Linked DNA regions of Homo sapiens. The protein of the gene in region 1 purifies or fractionates together with the protein of each later gene. This does not show direct contact. Each region holds a gene or a part of one and is shown in the gene's direction. Other genes may lie near its edges.

Region 1 (5,198 bases):
TTTCCTCTTCCTCCCCCTCCAGATTCCATAATATCAAATTCATAACTTTTCATTTGCGCATGCCTTATTTTCCATTCCTTGTTTGTCACTAATCCTGTTAGTAAAAGGATTCCCCCACCTATGTTCATAATTAAGTTTTGGTCTAAAAAGAACTACAAACAGAAGCACAGTTCCCTAGATTTCTAATTTTTTTTTATTTTATCACAGCCAGTTAACTTATTACATTGGATACTTAAACACATAGTACCATAAACTGGATGTGGTCTTGTAGCCGCCAGATCTTCAGTTTTGACTTTGGCCCAATTCTCCTAGAAGTACTTAATTTTAATTCATTTTATTACCTAACGTCCTATTAATAATCCCGTTGGTTTCAAAGTATATTCTTAGGTTTCACAAGAGGCTGAAATTTGGTCTTAGGGGTTGTCACTTAAAAATAACTAATGTAATTTTTGGCCGGGCACGGTGGCTCATGCCTGTAGTCTCAGCACTTTGGGAGGCCAAGGCTGGCAGATCACGAGGTCAGGAGTTCGAGACCAGCCTCACCAATATGGTGAAACCCCATCTCTACTAAAAGTAGAAAAATTAGCCAGGCACGGTGGCGGGCGCCTGTAATCCCAGCTACTCAGGAGGCTGAGGCAGGAGAATCACTTGACCCCAGGAGGCAGAGGTTGCAGTGAGCCAATATCGCCCACTACACTCCAGCCTGGGCGACAGAGGGAGACTCCATCCAAAAAAAAAAAAAAGAAAAAAAAATGTCATTTTTAATTGTATTGTTTCAGGGCGTTTTAGAGTATTTGTTTTTCAGTGTTAGCTTTGTTTGTGTTTCCCCCCTCCCCTTTTCCCTGATTTTCTTTTCAGACGTCTTTTTACAAGGGAAACGGTTCCACGAAGCCTTGGAAAGCATACTTTCACCCCAGGAAACCTTAAAAGAGAGAGATGAAAATCTCCTCAAGTCTGGTTACATTGAAAGTGTCCAGCATATTCTGAAAGATGTCAGTGGAGTGCGAGCTCTTGAAAGTGCTGTTCAACATGAAACCTTAAACTATATAGGTCTGCTGGACTGTGTGGCTGAGTATCAGTAAGTATGAGATTGGAGGTGAATTAATACAGCGTAGGACAGATGGTGCCTGTCAAAGGTGTGCCTGTAGGTACTGTAGCCTCTGTCTGTTTAATGTCCAGACCTTTGTGCTAGGTAAAAGAATTGGGTGGGGCGGGGTTGAGAACAGGTACAAGGAGAAGAGCCACGTAACCTTTGTCATCCAGTACTCCAAAATCAAATTGTTTGCTGGAGAAAGGTATATTCTTTGTTTGTTTGTTTTGTTTTGAGACGGAGTGTCACCCAAGCTGGAGTGCAGTGGTGCAATCTTGGCTCACTGCAACCTCCGTCTCCCAGGTTCAAGCGGTTCTCCTGCCTCAGCCTCCTGAGTAGCTGGGACTACAGGCATGCACCACCGCACCTGGCTAATTTTTGTATTTTTAGTAGAGACAGGGTTTCACCATGTTGGCCAGGCTGGTCTCAAACTCCCGACCTCAAGTGATCCATCCACCTTGGTTTCCCAAAGTGCTGGGATTACAGGCGTGAGCCACTGCACCTGGCCGAGATTTTTCAATCTCCCTAACATGGCCTGTTTGCCAGCCTGTCCTTCCCCTCCCCCAAAGCAAGGTACCTGCCATAAGATCCAATTTCATTCCTGCGTTTTCTTTCCTGTTTTTCTAAAGATAGCACCATGATCTGTTGGTTCTGAAAATCAACTCTTCCTGGCTTCCAGGCAGTGCTTGACATGGATCAGAGATCTGAACTTACTAAAGCTTCCCATGGTTGTTTTGTTTTGTTTTGTTTCGTTTTGTTTTTTGAGACGGAGTTTTGCTCTTGTTGCCCAGGCTGGAGTGCAGTGGTGCGATTTCAGCTCACTGCAACCTCCATCTCCTAGGTTCAAGCTATTATCTTGCCTCAGCCTCCCAAGTAGCTGGGATTACAGGCATGCGCCACCATGTGTGGCTGATTTTGTATTTTTAGTAGAGATGGGGTTTCTCCATGTTGGTCAGGCTGGTCTCGAACTTCGGACCTCAGGTGATCCGCCTGCCTCAGCCTCCCAAAGTGCTAGGATTGTAGGCATGAGCCACCACGCCCGGTCCCCATGGTTTTTATATCGTAGCTGTCTTACTGTTTTACTCAGGTACTTCAGAGTCCAAGTGTTACAGGAAAGGGGTCCTGATCCAGACCCCGAGAGGGTTCTTCGATCTCGGGCAAGAAAGAATTTAGGTTGAAGGCAGGCACAGTGGCTCACGCCTGTAATCCCAGCACTTTGGGAGGCCGAGGTGGGCAGATCACCTGAGGTCAGGAGTTCAAGACCAGCCTAGCCAACATGGCAAAACTCCGTCTCTACTAAAAATACAAAAATTAGCCAGGCGCAGTGGTGTGTGCCTATAGTCCCAGCTACTCGGGAGTCTGAGGCAGGAGAATCACTTTAACCCGGGAGGCAGAAGTTGCAGTGAACCGAGATGGTGCCACTGCACTCCAGCCTGAGCAACAGGTGAGACTCTGTCTCAAAAAAAAAAAAATAAAAGAAAGAAAAGAAAAAGCATTCAGGATGAGTCTGCAGTGCAAAGTAAAAGCAGGTTTATTAATAAAGTAAAGTAGTGGAAGTATAGCTACTCCATAGACAGAGCAGGGCGTTCCTGAAAGTAAGAGGAGGAACACTTCCACCCTAAGTACAGTGCTCATATATATAAGATAAAAAAAGAGATCTTGGGGAGATGTGCTCTACTGCAAGGGTTTGTGATAAAGGATTAATTTTCTTAATTATTATATTTTGCAAGAATCGATACTATCTTTAAAGCAAAATTAGGAATGCCTTCGTTCTCCAGATATCAGGGTATCTGGACACTCCCAAGTCTGGGTCTGTTTAGTAAACATTATTAATTTGTTCCCTTAACCTTAAACATCTAGAGGCTATGAATGCCTGACTTTCTGGGAATGCAGCCCAGCAAGGCCCAGCCTCACTTTCCTAGCCCTCACTCAAGATGGAGTTGCTCTCGTTCGAACGCCTCTGATACAAAGGTGGCTACAACCTGCAGGTACCCCTAATCCAAATAAGGCAAGCGATCACTAAGAACAAGATAGAAAAATCCGTTCATGTAAACCTTGAAGCTCTAGTTAAAATTTAAGTTTAAAAGCTTGTCTATTCCACAGCCCAATACAAATTCGTAAACTTTCTTAAAACATTATGAGATTTTTTTTTGGTTATTTATTTATTTATTTTTAGTTCATCAGCTATTGTGTGGCCCAAGACAATTCTTCCAATGTGGGCCAGGAAGCCGAAAGAGTGGGCACCCTTGATAGTCTGAAAACTGTTTAGACCACCTAATGGTTTTATTTTTTATTTATTTATTTTTGAGACGGAGTTTCACTCTTGTTGCCCAGGTTGGAGTGCAATGGCGTGATCTTGGCTCACTGTAACCTCTGCCTCCTGGGTTCAAGCGATTCTCCTGCCTCAGCCTCCCAAGTAGCTGGGATTAGAGGTGCACGCCACCACACCCGGCTAATTTTTGTGTTATTAGTAGAGATGGGGTTTCGCCATGTTGGCCAGGCTGGTCTCGAACTCCTGACCTCAGGTGATCCACCCACCTCAGCCTCCCAAAGTGCTGAGATTACAGACGTGAGCCACCGCGCCTGGCCTAGACCACCTAATGGTTTTATAGCACAACTGCGTCATATCTGAGAAGAGCCCTGTATACCAAGAGATTTAATAGACTTTGGTTGCCTTTTAGATAAACCAAGGAAGCCATACAGTCACCTCCACCCAAGGCCTACAAGAAGTTCCTGACACCCAATGCTTGTCATAGAGATGATAAAATATGTCCATAGCACTGTTGTTTGTTTTTTGCTTTTTAAGTCAACATCAACCTTGGTAATATGAACATTTTTGAAACTACGGTTTTTTTTTGTTGTTTTTGTTTTTGTTTTTGAGACAGAGTCTTGCTCTGTCACCCAGACTGGAGTGTGGTGGCCCAATCTCAGTTCACTGCAACCTCTGCCTCCTGGGTTCAAGCAATTCTCCTGTGTCAGCCTCCCCAAGTGGCTAGGACTACAGGCACCCACCACCACGCCTGGCTAATTTTTTGTGTTTTTAGTAGAGATGGGGTTTGGACATGTTGCCCAGGCTGGTCTCGAGCTCCGGGCCTTGAGTGATCTGCCCGCCTCAGCCTCCCAAAGTGCTGGGATTGTAAGTGTGAGCCACTGCACCCAGCCTAGAATTTTTTTTTTTTAAGACACAGTTTTGTTCAGTTGCCCAAGCTGGAGTGCGGTGGCATGATCTCGGCTCACTGCAACGTCCACCTCGCAGGCCCAAGCGATTCTCCCACCTCAGCCTCCTGAGTAGTTGGGACCACAGATGCGAACAACCACGCCCAGCTAATTTTTTTGTATGTTTTGTAGAGATGGGGTTTTGCCATGTTGCTCAGGCTGATCTAGAATTCCTGAACTCAAGCAAGCTGCCTGTCTCCGTCTCCCAAAGTGCTGGGATTTACAGGTGTGAGGCACCGCGCCCAGCTAAGAATTTTTTATTTTTGTTATTTTTTTAATTTTATTTATTTATTTTTTTGAGATGGAGTCTTGCTCTGTCACCCAGGCTGGAGTGCAGTGGCGCGATCTCGGCTCACTGCACGCTCCGCCTCGGGTTCACGCCATTCTCCTACCTCAGCCTCCCCAGCAGCTGGGACTACAGGCGCATGCCACCACGCCCGGCTAATTTTTTTTTTTTTGTATTTTTAGTAGAGACAGGGTTTCACCGTGTTAGCCACAATGGTCTCGATCTCCTGACCTCGTGATCTGCCCGCCTCGGCCTCCCAAAGTGCTGGGATTACAGGTGTGAGCCACCGCACCGGGCCTAATAATTTTTTATTTTATTTTAGTTTATTTTTTTGAGGCAGTCTTTCACTGTCACCCATGCTGGAGTGCAGTGATGCATTCAGGGCTCACTGCAGTCTCTAACTCCCCAGGCTCAGGCTGTCCTTCCACCTCAGCTTCCCAAATAGCTGGAACTACAGGGATGCACCACCACACCCAACTAATTTTTCTATTTTTTGTAGATGTGGGGTCTCACCATTTTGCTCAGGCTGGTCTTGAACTCCTGGGCTCAAGTGATCCACCACCTCAGCCTCTCAAAGTGTTGGAATTACAAACGTGAGCCCCTATG
Region 2 (3,500 bases), on another chromosome or scaffold:
AAACATAAAAATTAGCTGGGCATGGTGGCAGGCGCCTGTAATCCTAGCTACTTGGGAGGCTGAGGCAGGAGAATCGCTTGAACCCACAAGGCAGAGGTTGCAGTGAGCTGAGATGACACCATTGCATTCCAGCCTGGGCGACGAGTGAAACTCTGTCTCAAGAAAAAAAGAAAAAGAAAGAAGGGGCTGGGTACAGTGGCTCATGCCTGTAATCTCAAGACTTAAGGTGGCTACGCCGGGCGCGGTGGCTCATGCCTGTAATCCCAGCACTTGGGAGGCCAAGGCGGGCGGATCACGAGGTCAGGAGATCGAGACCATCCTGACTAACACAGTGAAACCCCGTCTCTACTAAAAATCCAAAAAATTAGCTGGGCGTGGTGGCAGGCGCCTGTAGTCCCAGCTACTCAGGAGGCTGAGGCAGGAGAATGGCGTGAACCCGGGAGGTGGAGCTTGCAATGAGCCGAGATCGCGCCACTGCACTCCAGCCTGGGTGACAAAGCGAGACTCTGTCTCAAAAAAAAAAAAAAAAAGACTTGGGGAGGCTGAGGCAGGTGGATCACTTGAGGCCTGGAGTTTGAGACCAGCCTGGCCAACATGATGAAACCCCATCTTTACTAAAAATACAAAAATTAGCAGGGCGTGGTGGAGCACGTCTGTAGTCCAGCTTACTTGGGAGGCTGAGGCATGAGAATCGCTTGAACATGGGAGGCAGAGGTTGCAGTGGGCTGAGGTCACGCCACTGCGCTGCAGCATGGGTGACAGAATGAGACTCTGTCTAAAAAAAAAAAAAAAAAATTACAAGCAAAAAGGGCCACCAGGCACAGTGGCTCATGTCTGTAATCCCAACACTTTGGGAGGTGGAGACGGGATGATCACTTGAAGCCAGGCGTTCAAGACCAACCTGGGCAAAATAGTGCGACTCCCGTCTCTGCTGAAAATTTAAAAATTAGCCAGGTGTGGTGGTGTACACCGGTAGTTCCAGCTGCTGGACAGGGTGAGGAGGAGAATTGCTTGAGCCCAGGAGTTGAAAGCTGCAGTAAGCCACAGTAGCACCACTACATTCCAGCCTAGGCCACAGAGCCAGACCCCGTCTCAAAAAAAAACCAAAAAAAAAAACCCAAAAAAAAACCGGCATGTGTGTGTCATCACTGTGAATATTACCAAGTTGCCTCCGTGGCAGTTTTTACCAGCTCCCCGTAGCCATGGCTAACAGTGCCTGTTTCCTCCCTACTGTGCCAGCATTGTGTTTTATCGCACTTTGTAATGGCCTCGAATCTTGGGTTTGTAACCACAGTTCCATACCTCCGAGTCCTCAGGGAGGCCACTGGGACCTCTCTGAGGAAAGAGCCAGCCTGGCGGCCCCCCATAGACACTGAGAGGTGCCAGATTCCAGCAGTTCTCCTCCCTCCCCAGGTCCCTCGCCGGCTCCCTCGGGGCCTCCACTGCAGCGCAGCTGCCCATAGCTCTGAACAGTCCCTGGTTCCCAGCCCACCGGAACCCCGGCAGAGGCCCACCAAGGCTCTGGTGCCCTTTGAGGACCTGTTTGGGCAGGCGCCTGGTGGGGAACGGGACAAGGCGAGCTTCCTGCAGACGGTGCAGAAATTTGCGGAGCACAGCGTGCGTAAGCGGGGCCACATTGACTTCATCTACCTGGCCCTGCGCAAGATGCGGGAGTATGGTGTCGAGCGGGACCTGGCTGTGTACAACCAGCTGCTCAACATCTTCCCCAAGGAGGTCTTCCGGCCTCGCAACATCATCCAGCGCATCTTCGTCCACTACCCTCGGCAGCAGGAGTGTGGGATTGCTGTCCTGGAGCAGATGGAGAACCACGGTGAGGCCAGGAGGCTGGCGCAGGGTGGGGAGTGGGCTACACTGATAGCTGGCAGCACCTCTCCTGAGTCTCAGCCCCTCCTTCCTCCATGGCTCCGTCTCTGTCTCTCTCGCTCTTCTCCCTCTCCGAATCCCTCTTTTCATCACTCATCTCTCTTTCTTGCCTCCCTCTGACCTCCCCTCCCCTCCCCCCTCCCTCCCTCTCCTCCCCCCACTCTCCTCTCTTCTCCTCTCCTCCCTGCCTCTCTCTCCCTCCCTTCCTTCCTCTCTTTCTCTCTTTCTTTTAGAAATGGGGTCTCACTATGTTGCCCAGGCTGCTCTCAAACTCCTGGACTCAAGTGATCCTCTCCCCTTGGCCTCCCAATGTGCTGGGATTACAGGCATGAGCCTTTTTCTTTCTAATTCTCTCTGATTCTTTTCTCCCTGTCTGTGATCAATTCCCTCACTTCACTGTTTTCTTTTCTCCTCTTCCCTTCCCTCCTCCCCCTCCATCTCTGAGGTTCTGCCTGCATCTGCCCAGCACAGGTGTGATGCCCAACAAGGAGACGGAGTTCCTGCTGATTCAGATCTTTGGACGCAAAAGCTACCCCATGCTCAAGTTGGTGCGCCTGAAGCTGTGGTTCCCTCGATTCATGAACGTCAACCCCTTCCCAGTGCCCCGGGACCTGCCCCAGGACCCTGTGGAGCTGGCCATGTTTGGCCTGCGGCACATGGAGCCTGACCTTAGTGCCAGGGTCACCATCTACCAGGTATCCGCCCTTGTCTACAGCGTCAGCTGCCACCCCAGGCCAGGCTCCCGCCATTCCTCCCCTGGGCTCCCCTTCTCTCACTCTAGTGATTGTGGTGAATCAAGTTCTTTTTTGAGACAGGGTCTTGCTCTGTTGCCCAGGCTGGAGTGTGGTGGCACTATCTCGGCTCACTGCAGCCTCTGCCTCCCAGGCTCAAGCGATCTTTCCACCTCAGCCTCCTGAGTAGCTGGGACTCCAGTCACACACCACTATGCCTGGCTAATTAAAAAAACTGTTTTTTTTTTTCAGAGACAGGGTCTCACTATATTGCCCAGGCTGGCCTTGAACTCCTGGGCTCAAGCAATCCTCCTGCCTCGGCCTCCCAAAGTGCTGGGATTACAGGCATGAGGCACTGTGCCTGGCCGTGAATTGAGTTCTGATTCTCTGGCTGAGTCCCCTGGTAGGTTCCCATGGTCCTTACTGCTAGCACAGCTTGAGTGACCTCTGCTTCAGTCCGTTCAGGCTGCTCTAACAAAATCTCTTAGCTTGGGTCATTGATGAACAACAAAAATTTATTGCTCACAGTTCTAGAGGCTGGGAAGTCCAAGATCAAGGTGCCACCAGATCTAGGTCTGGTGAGGGTTTGCTCTCTGCTTCAAAGATGACACCTTGCTGTGTCCTCACATAATATAAGGGGCAAACAAGCCCCTCAGACCTCTTCATATTTTTTTTGAGACAAGGTCTGGCTCTGTTGCCCAGGCTGGAGCGCAGTAGCACTATCTTGGCTCACGGCAAATTCCACCTCCCAGGCTGAAGCCATCCTTTCACCTCAGCCTCCCAAGTAGCTGGGACTACAGTCGTACACCACCACGCCCGGCTAATTTTTGTATTTCTTGTAGAAATGGGGTTCCACCATGTTGCCCAGGCTGGTCTCAAACTCGT

Evidence for each region. The genes of interacting proteins can lie anywhere in the genome.
Region 2: the proteins of MGME1 (region 1) and ECSIT purify together in Homo sapiens (affinity purification with mass spectrometry; 4 studies listed by BioGRID and IntAct, with this or other methods). This does not show direct contact.

Annotation. Positions count from the first base shown.
Region 1 is NC_000020.11:17,974,826-17,980,023, forward strand, and holds part of MGME1 (mitochondrial genome maintenance exonuclease 1 isoform 2 precursor), read left to right. Parts: intron 1-858; coding exon 859-1,078; intron 1,079-5,198. UniProt on the Homo sapiens protein: Metal-dependent single-stranded DNA (ssDNA) exonuclease involved in mitochondrial genome maintenance. Has preference for 5'-3' exonuclease activity but is also capable of endonuclease activity on linear substrates.
Region 2 is NC_000019.10:11,512,135-11,515,634, reverse strand, and holds part of ECSIT (evolutionarily conserved signaling intermediate in Toll pathway, mitochondrial isoform 1 precursor), read left to right. Parts: intron 1-1,413; coding exon 1,414-1,831; intron 1,832-2,355; coding exon 2,356-2,579; intron 2,580-3,500.